Regions from separate parts of the Homo sapiens genome. Here all the other regions are reported to be linked to region 1. The links are microRNA targets in miRTarBase. Many come from high-throughput screens and were not tested one by one. Region 1 holds a microRNA gene; each other region holds the end of a gene's coding sequence.
The links. The annotated mature microRNA hsa-miR-3132 reads UGGGUAGAGAAGGAGCUCAGAGGA and lies in region 1 at 2,585-2,608, shown strand. An mRNA with a match to its seed (bases 2 to 7 or 8) in the 3' UTR can be bound and repressed. Matches are read on the target gene's strand: a 7mer-m8 pairs with bases 2 to 8, a 7mer-A1 pairs with bases 2 to 7 and ends in A, and an 8mer does both.

Region 1 (5,110 bases):
GTGACTGTGTCCCGCTCGGGGGGCCACGTGTGCTGGCTGCGGGAGGGGGCCGAGCTGTGCCCGGGAGATAAGTATGAGATGCGCAGCCACGGCCCCACCCACAGCCTGGTCATCCATGACGTTCGACCTGAGGACCAAGGCACTTACTGCTGCCAGGCCGGCCAGGACAGCACCCACACACGGCTGCTGGTAGAGGGTGAGTAAAGCCAACTGGGCAGCGGCAGGAGGGTGAGGGCGCCTGGGAGCTGATGGGTTAAGCCACACCTATGGGAGGCTTTCCAGAACTTGGGGTGGCAACGGGTCCTGGGATACGTAGGAGGTGGGGATGGGGGAGGGGAGGGGTAGAGCACACCCAGGGCTGGAAAGCCCTGGAACTGCTTGGCTCAGATCAGCTGCTCCTGGTCAGCTGTTCCCACCTTTCTACGCCCCTTCTTGCCAGGCTTCTCCTCTCTCCTGCCACTGGACCATGTTTGTCTCTCTTGAACAGCCCTGTTTCTACCAGTTCCTTTCCTCCCCACTTCACCAACACTGCCTTCCTCCAGCCTGTCCCTCCTCCTTCCTGCCCTCTGCCCAGCTTGCCTCTGCCCATCTCAGCAAGTTCCATGTCAGCCTTGGCAGAAGCCTCTTTCTTTCCTCTTCCCCATAAGAGACATCCCACCTTCTATCCCAAATCCCAGCATTCCCTTCAGGTGCCGCGCTGTGCCCCACCCCTAGCTGACCCCCACCTTCCTGCCGCCAAGACAGCCCTAACCAAGGCCCAGAAAGGGTAGGGCAGAACCTGGGGGCCCAGCTCTTTGTGTACTGGTGTCCAGGCTCTGCCAGGGGAGAGGAAGGTGGTACCCCCTTCTCTCCCCAGCCCCATGTGGAGTCATTCCTCTGCAGGCAACTAGGAGAACCTAACCAGGCCAGGCGGGTGCCCTTGGACAGCTTGGAAGGCGTTTGCCCTTACCCTGGGCAGGGGTAGAGAGACAAGGAACAATAAAAGTGCTACAGCTCATTTCCTTGCCTCTCTGAGTGATGTGGGGGGGCAGACCTTGCCTGGAGCCCCTGTGCAGTGAGCGACACTGGGGACCGAGGGCTGTAGTGCTTGTACCTGGCCCATGAAAGTGCCAGCCACCAAAGACCACCATTCCTGGCAGAGGCCACACAGTTTGGCACATTTATAAAAGATGTAAAACAGAGTGGGGTGGGGGAGACAGAAGCATGAGGTGTCTAGGTTGGCATGACAGACACCAGACATGCACCGTGCATTTAAACCCCTCCCCAACTCCCTTCCCAACCCAGCCCAGAGCAGCACCCCCCCACCCCCATCTCCTGCCACTGCCCTCAGGCTGGTGGCTTTACAGAGGCCAGGGGACCAGGGTGAGGGATGCTACAGTTTGCCCCATAGACAAGGACAAGAACCCTTAGATGAGTCTGGCTGCGAGGCAGGGCGATGGGAAGGAAGGTAGCCCCTCCGCGGAGACATGCAGGAGGTGGCCCATGGGACCTTGGCAGGGAGTGAAGAGGTGGGGCTGAGCCTGGAGAAACCCTACCAGTCAGAAATCTAAGGCAAGGGTCCCAGCGTCCCCTCCAAGCCTGCCCACCCCCACACACATACACACAGACACACGGGCAACACACTCACAACCCTGAGCACACCCCAATGGGGTTCACACCCCGAGTTCCTCAGGAGCCTCTTGGGAGCTTGGGAGGGGGCTTTCCTCTCAGGCCAAGACTCGCCTGAGACAATCCTCCCTTCTAGTGACCAGGCCAGCCCTCTCCAGGCTGGGGAGAGGGACAGCCAAAGCCAGGAGGCTGAGTGGCAGCCTAGCAGGCCTCCTCGAGCTGGCAGAGCTGGTGACTGCAGAGTCTAGACAGACAGATATGGCTATACCCGCACTGGGGGGCCTGAGCAGGCTGTCAGAGGTCCCCGGGACCCATACTCATAGTCCGCATCTGTGGGTGAGGCCATGAAGGAGCTCAGGGAGCTCCCGGTCTGCCGGTCTCGGAAGCTCTGGATATAGCTCTGTGGGGGAGCAAACATAGGTGTGAGTCCCACCGCAGAATCCTGCCCTAAAAGCCACCTCTTCCTGAATTCCCACAAGCCTGACACTTCTATAGACTGCCATAGACCCAGAGTCCACAGCCCTGAGACCCCACCACATACCATATCCCACTTAAAACCCATACTCAGGAACCTTTCCCCCAATTCCCCCACCAGCTGGACCCGCCAAGCCCCTGGTGCATGGGCTCCGATGCATGGACAAACAGTTCATGGACAAACAGGCCTTCTAGATAGCAACCAGCCCGTGGGGAAAGCCCAGTCCTGTTTGGAAAGAGTTTCCACACTTCCTTCTCATTCTGGCTGGATGGGCTCAGGGAGCTCACCGGGGAGAGGACGTCTCCATTGAAGCGTTTGATGGGCACTGGCCTGCGCCGATAAGCAGGGTCTGGTGGCCCAGGCCTGGGAGGAGCCCGGGGACCTCTGAGGGGAGCCCGAGGAGGTCTCTTTTTCCGCCTTTTCTCCTTGCGATCTTCCTGCTGCCGAATCCGCATCAGTTGCACGCGTCGGCGCTGCCGGCTGATGACCACTGTGGTGGGATGGGTAGAGAAGGAGCTCAGAGGACGGTGCGCCTTGTTTCCCTTGAGCCCTCCCTCTCTCATCCCACCTGTGGCTCTAGGCTTCCAGATTCCTCTTGTCCATAACCCCTTACTCCCACCCTGTCACTTCCTTTCCTGGTCTCCTACCTCTCAGAGGAGACTTCCCGCTGTTGTTCTTTTCTTCCATAGGTCTTTATGGAAGGTTGCTAGGCTTCCAGGTACCCCCTTCCAGGCTGTCATCCCTCTCCCAATCACCTAGGCCAGCCATCATCATCTTTCCACTGGACAATCACAGCTGCTTCTTCACTGGTTTCCCCCTACACTTGCTCCCTCCAATGCTTTCTACACTCGGCAGCAGAATGAGCATCCCAAAAGCTAAATTAGATTCTATCCTCCCCTACTTTAAACTCTCCAGTGGTTTAAAGTCTTATTGCCCTTCTAATAAAATGTGGAGTGCTTCTTATGACCCAGAGGGTCCACGCAATCACTCTGGCTCCCACACCTCACCTCCCATACTCCTGCCCCACTTCCTCAAGCAAGCTGAGCTCATTCCTTCTCAGGGCCCTCGCCCTTGCTGTTCCCTCTTCTCTAGCTCTTTGCATGGCTGGCCCCTTAGCCTTCAAGTGCCTGCTTACATATCACCTCCTTCAAGCAGCCTTCCCTGACCACCCTAACTCTAATAGCTTCCATAGGTCATTCTTTCACATTATCCTGCACAATGTCTCTGTCATATCACTCTACACAACTGGAATCATGTTTGTTTGCATCTCTGTTATCTGTCTCCTGCCTGCCTTGAATCCATAAGGACAGGAACCTTGTCTGTGTTATCTCTGCTGTATCCCTGGTGCCTGGAATGGGGTTGGTGCGGAGCCAGCACTCCATATGTTGTTGTGGAATGAATGATGGCACCTGGGTGCTATCCTCCCAGACCCTGAGCAAGTCAGCTCTCTACCGCCATCGAGGCCTTCTGCTGCTGTCCCCCACTCCCCAGTCACTTGGCCCCCAACCCATCCCTGGCCACCCACTCCTCTCATGTCCACCTTGGCCTGTGCCCCCTTACCTTCCGTGTGGGAGTCCCCCTCAGCTGTCACCCTCCACTGCACCAGAACGCCCATCAGGCTGAGCAGGGGCCAGAGTGCCAGCAGGGCCCAGCTTCGCCAGCAGAGTGGGGGCACAGGAGCAGCCCGGAGTCGCTCCACCACGTAGCGCCCCAGCAGTAGCAGCTCGGCGAAGTAGTCAGCGGCAGTGGCGATCAGCGCAGCACCAGTCACGGCGGTGGCCAGGGTGGTGAGTGGGCGGGGCCAGCGCAGAGTGAGCAGGGCACAGAGCAGGCCGCCCCCCAGCAACAGCCCCAGTGGACCCCACACGGAGCCTGGCTGGTAGTAGGGTGCGGAGCCCAGCAGGGCAGCAGCTGCGAGCAGCAGGCCGAGCAGCAGCCCCACCAGGAAGAGGCCCACGCTGCGCACTAGCATGGCCACCAGCCCGCAGAGCAGCCCGATGCCCAGAGCGATGCCCGCGCTCGCCCCAGCACTCAGCTGTGTCTCTAGCACCCGCTCTCGGTAGCAGAGGAGGAAGATGACCACCGAGCCAAACAGCAACCCAGTGAGAAAGAGCACTGCCTTGAAGCAGCGGTAACCTGGAGGGGAACAGGGGCTAGTGAGGGGCCAAGATGAGGGCACCAGGCTGGAGGGAGCAGGTCCAAGGGGTCAAGGACATGGGATCCCAGGGGAACCAGAGACAAAGACACTAAGATCAGAGAATTGAGGGTCACTGGAGTCATGACGGCATCAGTGATGGGGCCATTGAGGTCAGGGGAGGTTAGAGAGATATGGCTGTTGGTGGTCAATGGGAAGGCAAACATAACCATTGAGATCATGAGGGTTGATGTATTTGAGGATCACAGGAGTTAGGATAAATCTTTTGAGTCAAGAGTGAATTCGTGCATTGGTGTCTTTGGGATCATAGGAGTCAGAGAGAGAAGTCACTGGGGTCCCAAGGGGATCAGAAAAAGAGTCATTGGGGTCTTTGAGAAGGGATTGCTCACAGAGATGAGGTATTTGGAAATCATAATAAACTCGAGGGCCGGGCGTGGTGGCAGCACTATGGGAGGCCAAGGCGGGTGAATCATGAGGTCAGGAGTTTGAGACCAGCCTGACCAACGCGGTGAAACCCCGTCTCTACTAAAAATACGAAAAATTAGCCGGGCATGGTGGCACGCACCTGTAATCCCAGCTACTCAGGAGGCTGAGGCAGGAGAATCGCTTGAACCCAGGAGGCAGAGGTTGCAGTGCACCAAGATCGCACCATTGCATTCCAGCCTGGGTGACAGAGCGAGACTCTTGTCTCAAAAAAAAAAAAAAAAAGAAACTTGAGAGGTGAGGGTCACACAGGTTCAGAAAGATGAGTCTTTGGGGGTCACAGGGCTTCAGAGATAATGGCACCACTGAAAGGTTACAAAGAGGACAGAGTAGCAGCATTACTGGGGAGTTGTCCCAGAAAATGAGGTATTTGTAGGTTAGGGAGATTG
Region 2 (5,110 bases), not on the chromosome of region 1:
GACATGCCAAGCTCGGAGCTCCTACCTGGTAGACGAGGTGCTGTGGGGCCACCGCTTCACGTCAGTGCTGACTCTGGAGGACGGCTTCTACGAAGTGGACTATGCCAGCTTTCACGAGACTTTTGAGGTGCCCACACCTTCGTGCAGTGCTCGAGAGCTGGCAGAGGCTGCCGCCCGCCTTGATGCCCATCTCTACTGGTCCATCCCCAGCCGGCTGGATGAGAAGGTGGAGGAGGAGGGGGCGGGGGAGGGGGCGGGTGGGGAAGCTGGGGCTGACAAGGAGCAGAATGGCTGCCTGCCACCCCCAGAGAGTGAGTCCAAGGTGTGACCAGCTTCCTCCAGACCCCTGTGGCAGACCGGGGGCCAGACACAGATACATGGGGAACTGCATATCGGAGGTGGTGGAGGAGGAGGAGGAGGAGGAAGGCAAAGCCCCTGGAAATGTGCTAAAGTTGGAAAGTCCCCGTCCCCCAGAACCTCAAGTCTAGAAACCAGTATGGAAGGGAGGGGTCCTGATTTCAGGGAAATGGAGGGTGGGGCCGGGTGAAAATGCCAGTCTGTGTTTGACCTTCACATTTGTTCATGAGTGGATGGATGGACAGAATGATGGACTTTTGGGGGTTGGATGGGAAGATGGTAGCAGATAAAGACAGCTGACAGATACATAGATGGACCAGTAGACAACTGGTCCACTCAGGGCTGCCACTAACCTGTAGAACACCCCTGTGCAAATTTTAAAAAGGAACCCTTTTCCTCCAGACAGATACAGCCCCAAACCAGGGTGCATGGCTTGGGGAGCAGAGTATAGGATGGATTGCAGTCCCCAGTCACCTCTTCTGCCAGCCTCCCCACATATGGCACAACTGTCTAATGACACGGTAGGCCAAGCTGAAGTGAAGGAGAAAGGAGCCGGACCAAGATGGGCACATGAGGAGGGTGCCCTCCTAGCTCCACCCTCACCAGGATGAAGGCGTGCAAGGGGCTCAGCAAGGTGTGAATGACCTTAGTCCGCAAGTTCAGGGAAGCAGGCAGAGCGGGGAGGTGCCTGAGCTGGGGCCTGGAGAGGGGCCTGGGAAAGGAAAACCAGGGATAGCTATTTTCTTACAGTGGAGTGAGATCTTACAGGTATCAGGCACAGGCAGGAAGAGAGAGAGAGAGGTTCTGGGGAGGAAGGGCCAGGAGAGAGATCTAGAAAGTGGGTTCACTAGAGCTGGGAAACAGGGAGCCCCTAGGAAAGCAGTGTGTCCTTGGGGCACAGTCATTCACATCACTGATTGGGTGCCATGTGGAGTGGACATTCAAAAACCTGGTTCCTGTCCTCAAAATAAGGGGCACCTGGGAAAACAGAGGAATCTACCTGTGGTGACTGAACGAGGGATAATTCAAACTGACAACCTGTGCAGTCCCGTGGAGGGTAGGGGAGTGTGGGTGATCAGAAGGCTGGGGCCAGTGTAAGGCATAGGGAATATGTAAGTCAGGAGTTAGAAATCTCCAGTGTGCGTTGGAATCACCTGGAGGGCTTGGTAAAACACAGATTTTTGGGCTCCACTCCAAGGGTTTCTGACCCAAGAGGTGGGGACCAAAACCATGCATTCCTAAGAAGTCCCCAGGTCATGCTGCTGTTGCTGGACTGAGGACCACACTTTGAGAACCTGTGCTCTAAGTGAATACTTGGAAGTCGTTTCAGGACATGGGGCATAGAAACTGAGGAGTAGCTGAGAGGAAGATGAAGAGAAGCTGAGAAGAAGCTGAGGATCCTCACAGGAGCAGACAGAGAAATGTGAAGGGTGGGGTTTTATGTGTGGGAAAGGGACCCGAAGCCCAGGCTGAAGAGTTTAACTTTGGGCCCAGAAACTCAACCATCAATGGAAACAGGGCAGTGACAAGTGGAGGGGGTGTCTGGAAGCTGAGCAGGCCCGACAGAGAGATGAAGCCATCAGAAGGACTTGAGGGGGCTCCTGGGGAGGTCGGGGGGAGGTGGAGCAGGAAGAGTTTTAGGGGCAAAGGACAGAACCCCTTGTAGGACTGGAGGCAAGATTGAATGTGGGAGAAAATCGGAGAGAAGCGATAGGAGTTAGAACATCTGGATGTGTCTGCAGCCTGCTGTCAGCCCAATTGGGCCAGGGGGTCCCAAAGACGCATATTCTCACCCCACCTCCACCTGCTTCCTGATCACATCCCAGTCACCAGCGGCAGCTTCCTGGATAGTGAGGGAGAACAACTGCAAGTTGAGAGAGGCAGAGGGGTGGAAGGGACCTGAAGCTGGCCTGGAGAAAAGCATAGGCCCAGGAGAGCCTGCCCTGGGACAGCGCCTGTCTCCCACACAGCAGCACTGGCCCAGCAAGGACCTCCTCCCTTGGCCCTGGCCACATCCCACTCCTGCCCTTTCATAAGCCCCCTGGGGAAAGCACTCCAGTCTTCTCTGTTCCAGGCTGGGCAGATAGGGTCCTATGGGGCACAGCCAGGGTCCTATGGGCATAGCCAGGGCCCTATGGGTCCTCTGGAAGCAAGAAAGGGGGCCATGGAAGCAGCCCAGACAGCTGGGGTTCACTCAGAGAGGACCCAAGTCCCAGTCCCTTCCTTTCAGTCAAAACACGGATATCTTTGCCTCAGGTCACAGGGCCACTGGGGCCCTGTCATCAAAGATGAGATTCCTGAAGCCTGGCATTGACTGGTCCCCTAAGAACAGATGTTGGGATGGAGAATGGGGATTCATTTGGGTTTCAGTAAAACAGGGGGGTCTGGACAAGAGCGGGTGGGCTACTTGGTATCCACACACACGCACTCACACAGGAGCCAACCCATTGCAGCTGAACAAGCAGAGAAACTCAGTCTGGAAAGGCCCCTCCTGCCTGCTGAAGTCACTGAGACCCTGCCACACCTCTCCTCGCCACTGTCACCACTCAGGGCACCACTGTACAGTGCAACAAGTCAGGAGACCTAGGTCCTACTCCTGACACTTGCTAATTAGCTCTATGACTCTGGGCAAATCGCATATCTGGGCCTCAGTTTCCTCATCTGTAAAAATGACAGCAAACTCGTAATGCTCAATAAATGTTTAAATAACAACTGAAGGAGGCCTGCCAGATGCCTCTTAAGGTGCCGTGCAGGTAAGAATTTTAGGATCAGAGAATCCTTAGGCAAGAAAATTCATGAAACTCCTGGGGCACTGGAGGAGGGGTGAAGCTGAAGGGTGGGAGGGAGGAGACCCCAGGGTAGGTACAGGCAGGTGAAGCGGGTATATGCAGGTGTAGTGGGTATATGCGGGTAGAGGGTATATGCAGGTACAGCGAGTACATGTGGGTGCAATGGCTCTGTGGACACACAGGCCCTCCCCTGACTGCCTGTTGTCCCAGCCTGAGTATCAGTTGTGTTCTGAGGCTTCTATTCTGCTGCTATGGGTCAGAAGGAACAACAATTTCAGCCCCAGGGCCTAGTGGGAGGAGTCAGGTCCAAGACTAGCCTGACCAGGAGAATGAGACGTGGGAAGAGTTGGGGAAAGTCTGGGAAGCTCAGAAAAGGCACTGCCCCTGGAGGCCCATGCCCTTTAACATGGGAGAAGCTGGTGCGGGGGTGACCACAGGCAGCTGGAACCTACCCTCCTTTTCTATGCTTCCCTCCCCAAGTAGGAGTCCAATCAGGAGTTGTCTCAGCCCCGACAGTTCAGGCTGCAGATGGAACCCAGGTGTCCCCTCCTGGGGTGGGTGGCATGGCCCATGGAGGCCAGATGGTGTTTGTGGTGGGAAGAGAGGCCTGGGTCATCCAGAATAGGTTGTCAATCCCCAACCACCTCCCTACTATGCACCCTGAGCGTTTTACAGTCTCATGGTAGGGAAGACACAGCCAAGCCTGCTTTTTATAAAACAAGTTTATTCACATTTTAGAAAAACTAATTCCAGGACAGGAAATGGCCTCCCTATAGGATCCCTAAGAGATCAAGAACAGAAGGCCAGAGGGAGGGGCTTGGGAGGGAAGGAGTGGGGAAGGGGAGGCACGTCTCCCATTCTGGGTAGTGGGAGGTCAAATAAATTAAAGGAAGAGTGGACAGAGGGAGAGGGTGTCCAGGCAACCAGAGGAGGGCTTGGAGCTGGGCCGGAAGACAGTCGACACCTGCAAGACCTGAAAAGGGTGCCCGGTGTGGGCTAAGGACAGAGAGCCCTGAGTGGGGCTCCCTCGCGGCCTCCACCCCTTAACAGGGCCCTGTGGATCTGAGCTGCCTACTCCTCCTCCAGGTGGGGCCTGGGAGGGAGCAGCTTGGTTCAGGACTTGGGGGTGGGAAGCCCAATGAAAACAAGGTTGGGGGGTTCTTTTCCCTCACCTGGGGAGTAAGGGATCACCGTTTTCGAAGCCTCTTCATGAAGCAGCAAGTGATGGTACCAAGGACAGTGGCACCAGTGACTAGGGCCACCCCTGTACCCACCAGCAGAGGCACAAATAGGGTGTCCAGGGCTGGGGGAGAGAGGATGACTGTTCAGAGAGGATGCCATCATCCTCCACCCATACACTTGCCTCTGCGCTTTCCCCATCAAGTTCTCTGAACCCACCTTCTCCATTCACAGACACCCCCATCCCTGCCCACAGCCTGCCCCCTCAGCATGCAAGTCAGCATCAACCACAGAGGACCCCGTGCAGGTGGGCACTGCAGGGCTGGAAGTTGGATTTTTTGAGACTTCATGTGACATAATGTGGAGGAGAGAGATAGTAGCAGGAGGGTCAGAAGATGGGAAGGGAAGGCCAGTGGCAGAGGCCAGGAGGAAGGCAGAGTGAGGAGGGTGGAGGGGGTGTCACTCACCATGCATGTAGGGGTAGACTGTAACAGGCCCTGAGCGGGCACTGCCCGCCTGGTACCAGCTGTAGTCGGCATGCTGCACCCAGGCGCTGGGGGCACAGTGGTACACGCCTTCATCCTCGGGCCCCAAGCTGTGTAGTCTCAGCCGATGGCTTCGGGGCCCCACCAGCTCTACGCTGACAGGGCCTCCTCCAGGCCGGACTCCCAGCTCTGCCACACCATCCTGGCCTACGCCACCCACCAGCTGGGCAGGGACAGAGCTGAGCTCTCCGTCCTCTGGTCGCTCCACCCACCAGCTGGCGGCCAGCCGCAGTCCTGGGG
Region 3 (5,110 bases), not on the chromosome of region 1:
CTGCCAAACATTTTGAAAATTCTCTCCTCACCTCCACTGCCTTTACGCTTTTCCTCCAAATTATTCCTTAACCCTCTGACATCTGGGGCTTCTGATTCCACCTCTCCAAAGAAATGCTCCCACCAAGACCATGGAGGCCCCTCTCGTTGCTGGTGGATACTCGTTCATTTTCCCCGCCACCACCCATCAGCAGCGTTCCACGCCGCCCTTCCTTCCTTCCTTCCTCCCCTAGCTTCATCACACCACGTTACTAGGTTTTTCCTGTCTCACTGGCTCCTTTCCCTGCTCTCCTTTTTATATGTTTCCTGCTTTCTTCCTCAGCCTTCTCTGCTCCCCACACCTATATGTTGATGATGCCCAAATCTCTGTCTCCAGCCACGACCTCTCTTTCCCCAAGCTCCATTTGCATAAACTGTCTCTGATGAGATTTAGGGCGCTTACGGTGGTATGGCTGTAGACAACTGTCTCAGGAAACAGACCCATGACCCACCCAGTTGCCAAGTCAGAAACAGGATGTATACTCTTGACTTGTCTCTCTCCCCTACACAGCAAAACAATCCCAAGACATGTCAATTCTATCTCCTGAGCAACCCATAAAACGATTTCTCTTCTTTCCATCTTCCATTACCCTAATTCTGGTGTTCATTCTCTCTCCCTGGGATGGCTGTAAAAGCCTCTGATTTCTCCCCTTTCCAAACCAGTCTCCACACTGCAACCATAGTGATCTAAGGCACAATTCTCACCTTTTCAGTCTTAGGCTTAAAGTTCAACATCCCTCTGGATACAGTCTAAATCTTTAACACGGCTGAAAAGGCCCAGCAAGAGCTGGACCAAGCCCACCTCTCCAGCTTCACCTTTCCTCATTTCTCCTTTGCACCCTCTGCCTCTGAACAAGTTACAGTCTTCCAAAGTTGTCATGTTTCTTGACCTTTGCTGTCTCCTCTGCCCAGAATGCAATTTCCCTGTCTGGCTAACTCCTGTCCAGCATTTGGCCTCAGCATGGACATCTGTTCCTCTAGGACGCTTCCCCTGATTCACCAAGACCAGCTTAACTGCCCCTACTGGCTGTTCCTATAGCAATTCTTTACCACAGACTACTGATTTTTTGTGTTTGTTTTGTTTTGGCAGTCTGACATAACTTTATACTAATGCAGCTTCTAGCCCTGTCCCCCACTCCTTCCTGATCAGTATCCCAATGTCCCTCCTATATGGAGCCACCACTACCCCACAGGATCCTGTACCACCCTTCTCCCAGAACTTATCACACTTTTTTTTTGTAATTGTGTTTCCATTCTCCAATAAATTGTGAGCGCCACAAAGAACCATTTCTATCTCACTTACCACTTGGAAGTGACTGGCAGGTAGTAATTGCTCAACAAATGTTCTATGAGTGAATGAATCCTTGGGATAATTATAGTACTAACCATCTTATTTAGTTATGACAGTTCAATAGAAACACGTAAAATAATGCTTTTATAGTTTACATACTGCTATAGAGCTATTGTATTATATTATTATTATTCTATTCCTACCCTCTATTGCTTGAGAGTAGGATATTGCCTTATTCAATTTTGGTTATTGTCCCAGAACTCAGGGATATATGTCTGGCATATATTGTTTTTAACCAATTTTTGTTGACTGTATCAATGATTGTAAGAAGTGAACAAAGGGCCAGATAATTGAACTATCCTGGACCACACACAGCTACCCTGTTCCAGAAGCAGGACTATAATCCCATCTGGAAAAAGGGAAACTTGGAAGTTGACATCTAAATGAAATTCCAGCATGGATGAGAGAAGCCCTGATTTCTCTCCATCAAGAGACTAGCCAGCTATGGAAGCCACCAGAGCCCCAGACCTCCATGGTCAAGTATTCACATAGTAGACATGACCCAGACAAGAGGGTGCGTATTTCAGCGTGGAGGGGAGACTGGGCCCTTGGTTTCCTGTGTCTTTGTAGTCAGTTCTAACCTCAGCCTCAGGCACTGGTGTTGGGGCCCTATTCATCCTCATCTGCACGTCCCTCAGTTCTTTTCCTGTTGCTATTATCCTATAGAGTCAGCAAGTCATGGAAGAGGTTTTACAGTCTAACCCTGTGGGGGTGTCAGGAGTTGCCTCCTGCCAGGTCTTCAGCATAAAAATCCCCCCTCCTCAGCTCCCAGTCAATTCTTCATCCCCACCCCTAGACTCTCCCAAATACCCCTGATGAAACCCCTGAGGTGGAAAAAGATAAAGACAAGCAAAGATAAACAGCACAGGAAGCAGAGGTACAAATAGAATTCTGATTTTTCTCCTTTCTCTCCATATTTTGAGGAAATGAATCCAATGTCCTCACCCCACCTCCTGCAGCGGAGAAGTCCCCTGAGCATCTCTGAACATCATGAACCCTCAAAGTAAGCTTAGCTTGGGCCCCTTTTCCTTTTCTATCAGTGAGGCCAAAGAGCCCCAGATGGGAGACAGGTGGATTTTTCTCTCAGCTGGGACCTTTTCTCTTTCTTGTCTAGCACATTTTGGGAAACCTTCAAGTACATTCTCATGCTGGTATTATTTAAACTTTGCACTGGAGTGAATTCCAGGAGTTATGTCCACACTGAGACCAATGGAGATGAACCTAAAGCAATATGTGGCCAAACACCTTAGCCTCTTTAAATATACTTTCCTTTGCTCCTTGGTTAACAGGGTCTGTCTGCTCGCATTAGAGAAACTGCCCAGTGACTCAGATCCTGAAAGGATCTGCTTTAGAGAAAAAAGGAGTCTGGTACTTCTCACTCCATCTAGTGGGCAACCTGTCCAACTACACTTTTTGCTATCATCCAATACAGACAACACTGGCAGTCAATAAAAAAGCTCATTCTCCCATTTCTAAAAGAATTCAATCTAGGAGTCTAGCTGCTGGCTTAACAAAGGGATATACAGCAAAGCCTAAGGTGCCCTGACTCACGAGAGAGCTGATTTCTGCCGAAATGCTGAGGTGAAACCCTAAAATGGTTCTGGCCACCTGCTAGGTTCTAGCTCAGACCCTGCACTGGATCATCTTTGTTCCACCCCCAAACCAGAGTAAATGGAATTCAGGAGGCTGGTTCTGTGCCCGCCCCTATGTACCTCAAATACTCGTAGCTGCCAAGCTTTTAAACAATGAAACTTAACACTGTACTTAAAGGGCTGTTCTGCTCAAATCATAAATGTGCACGCTAGTTGTTCACCAGTAATTAAAACTACTCGTACACATTTAATCAACATTTTCACAAGCGTTTTGCCTTAACTAAAAATTTGTATCAACATGAAGTCCTAGAATTATACTGCATGAGCCCCCAGGATTTGGAGAACATCATTCACCCTTCTTAATCCAAAAACTTGGGTGCCTGAAGGTGGGGTTTTGATCATGGCCAGGCTTCAAATTTAGGTCAGGCTCTGGTGGTACATCCTTATATGCTTGGTGCTCAGCACAGGTCAAGACACACAATAGACCCTCAATAAATATTTGCTGAATTTGAACAATTCCTGTAAAAATCTCATTAAGAGACATCAGCTTGGGACACAGTTCCTCTCTTACTGTTCCTTCTCCCAGAAGCTCCTGGAATGAGCAGGTCTGGCGGCAGGGGGCACACAGGGCTGCTGCTCAAATCGGAGAATGGCACAAACTCCAAAAGGGAGCTGGATTTAGACCTCCCCTCCCCATGTAGATAACGGGATTCCTAAGGTGCAGAGTGGGAGAATGGGTAGAGGAAGCAGGTTTCAGAGACTGAGAACCTACTAAACTCCTAAGAGAACTTTCCCTTGCAAAGAGAATGCATGAAAAAAGAAGGGAGAAGAGGAGAGAAGCCTCCCACAGCTGTTAGCCTGGAACAGCCGCTCTCACCTCAGTTCATCTGGGGAAGGGGCTACAAAGCAAACAATCTTTATTCACAATTGGGGTGGCAGAGGGGAGATACCCCCAGGTCAGTCCAAAAGCAAAGATACTGGGAGGGAAGATGGCGCTGGGCGAGGAACTCAGCACTCATCCTCACCCAGCAGGGCATAAGGGTTTCGGCCAGCCAGGCTGGACCCTGGAGCCGAGGTTGGGGTCTCCTCATCCCCTTCTCCCTCCTCATCCGCATCCCGGTCCTCCTCTCCCTCCTCCTCACAGGAGCTGCTCAGCTCTTCCTCTTCCTCCTCCTCCTCGTCACCTGCTGGCCCCACCCTGCCCTGCAAAACCACCAGCTCCGTGGTCTCTGGATGGGACTCCCAGGTGCCTGGGGAACCAAAACAAGAAAAAAATGGAGGAGAGTTTTGAGCAAGAACTAAAGCCAAGGAAAGATGGGGAAGAGGCAAAGACTAGGAATAACAATAATCTTTAGAGCTGCTGGCATTCATTCATTCATCCATTCATTCAACTTCCTATGTGCAGATTGCTGAACAGAACCTTTGTGCACATCAACTTCAATCTTTACAATCACTATGCTAAGGGTCAATTATTACCCTCAGTTTGCAGATCAGGAAAATATCACAGATGTTAAGTAACAGAGCTAGCCAACAGGTACAGAATCCAGGTTTGACCCTCTCTCTGGCCACAAAGCCCACACCCTTTTACCTACGCTATAGCAGGGGGCTGGGGAAGAATATCTGGGCTCTGACCTTTCTGTTCACTGTAGCCTGGGGGATGAAAACACAGGCTGAGGCGGCCGTCCACTGCCAGCCGCAAGAGACTGTTGGCTGCTCTGTACACATCATTCCGAGCCGCCTTGGCTGTCTTGTAACCACGTTTCTCTGCCCAGGCTGGAGGAAGAAAAGAATAATGGAAAGGGAAAGCATTAACCAGGTACCAGTTATACTCCCACTCCCATAACACAGTCCTTCCAGTTTTCCCCAAAACATTCCAGGCCAGAGATCTTACTGGCTATGCAACAAAAATCTAGGGGTGAGTGGACAGCAGCTTCATCAATGGCAGAATCTCTGAGGAGAGGAAAGGAGACAGGGAAGGGTAAAAGGCGAGGCAGGTAAGGAAGAGCAGCTGAAACCAGGTGGGGCGAAGCCAGGCACATGGAACTCACCTTCACAGATGTCCCAGGCACACCAGGGGTGTTCCGCTGAGGGGTCCTCAGCCTCTGGGTGGCGCAGGTGGAGCAGGGCCT

Region 2: the mRNA of IGSF8 is a reported target of hsa-miR-3132. Seed matches in the 3' UTR shown: 7mer-A1 at 4,007-4,013.
Region 3: the mRNA of GNL1 is a reported target of hsa-miR-3132. Seed matches in the 3' UTR shown: 8mer at 3,716-3,723.

The regions. Positions count from the first base shown.
Region 1 is chr2:219,546,615-219,551,724 of GRCh38, reverse strand. It overlaps MIR3132 (microRNA 3132), which reads left to right and starts at 2,578; the gene lies at 2,578-2,652. TMEM198 (transmembrane protein 198) reads right to left here. Exons shown (of 5, transcript NM_001005209.3): 3 at 3,644-4,219; 4 at 2,371-2,573; 5 at 1,130-2,008. The coding sequence ends at 1,871. OBSL1 (obscurin like cytoskeletal adaptor 1) reads left to right here. Exons shown (of 21, transcript NM_015311.3): 20 at 1-196; 21 at 883-997. The coding sequence ends at 890.
Region 2 is chr1:160,087,490-160,092,599 of GRCh38, forward strand. IGSF8 (immunoglobulin superfamily member 8) reads right to left here. Exons shown (of 7, transcript NM_052868.6): 5 at 4,793-5,110; 6 at 4,319-4,449; 7 at 3,854-4,119. The coding sequence ends at 4,334. KCNJ9 (potassium inwardly rectifying channel subfamily J member 9) reads left to right here. Exons shown (of 3, transcript NM_004983.3): 3 at 1-3,074. The coding sequence ends at 328. Among named protein-coding and RNA genes, the nearest start is that of KCNJ9, 8.5 kb to the left of the region's middle.
Region 3 is chr6:30,542,083-30,547,192 of GRCh38, forward strand. It overlaps GNL1 (G protein nucleolar 1 (putative)), which reads right to left. Exons shown (of 12, transcript NM_005275.5): 10 at 5,030-5,110; 11 at 4,614-4,754; 12 at 1-4,231. The coding sequence ends at 3,990. Among named protein-coding and RNA genes, the nearest start is that of GNL1, 12 kb to the right of the region's middle.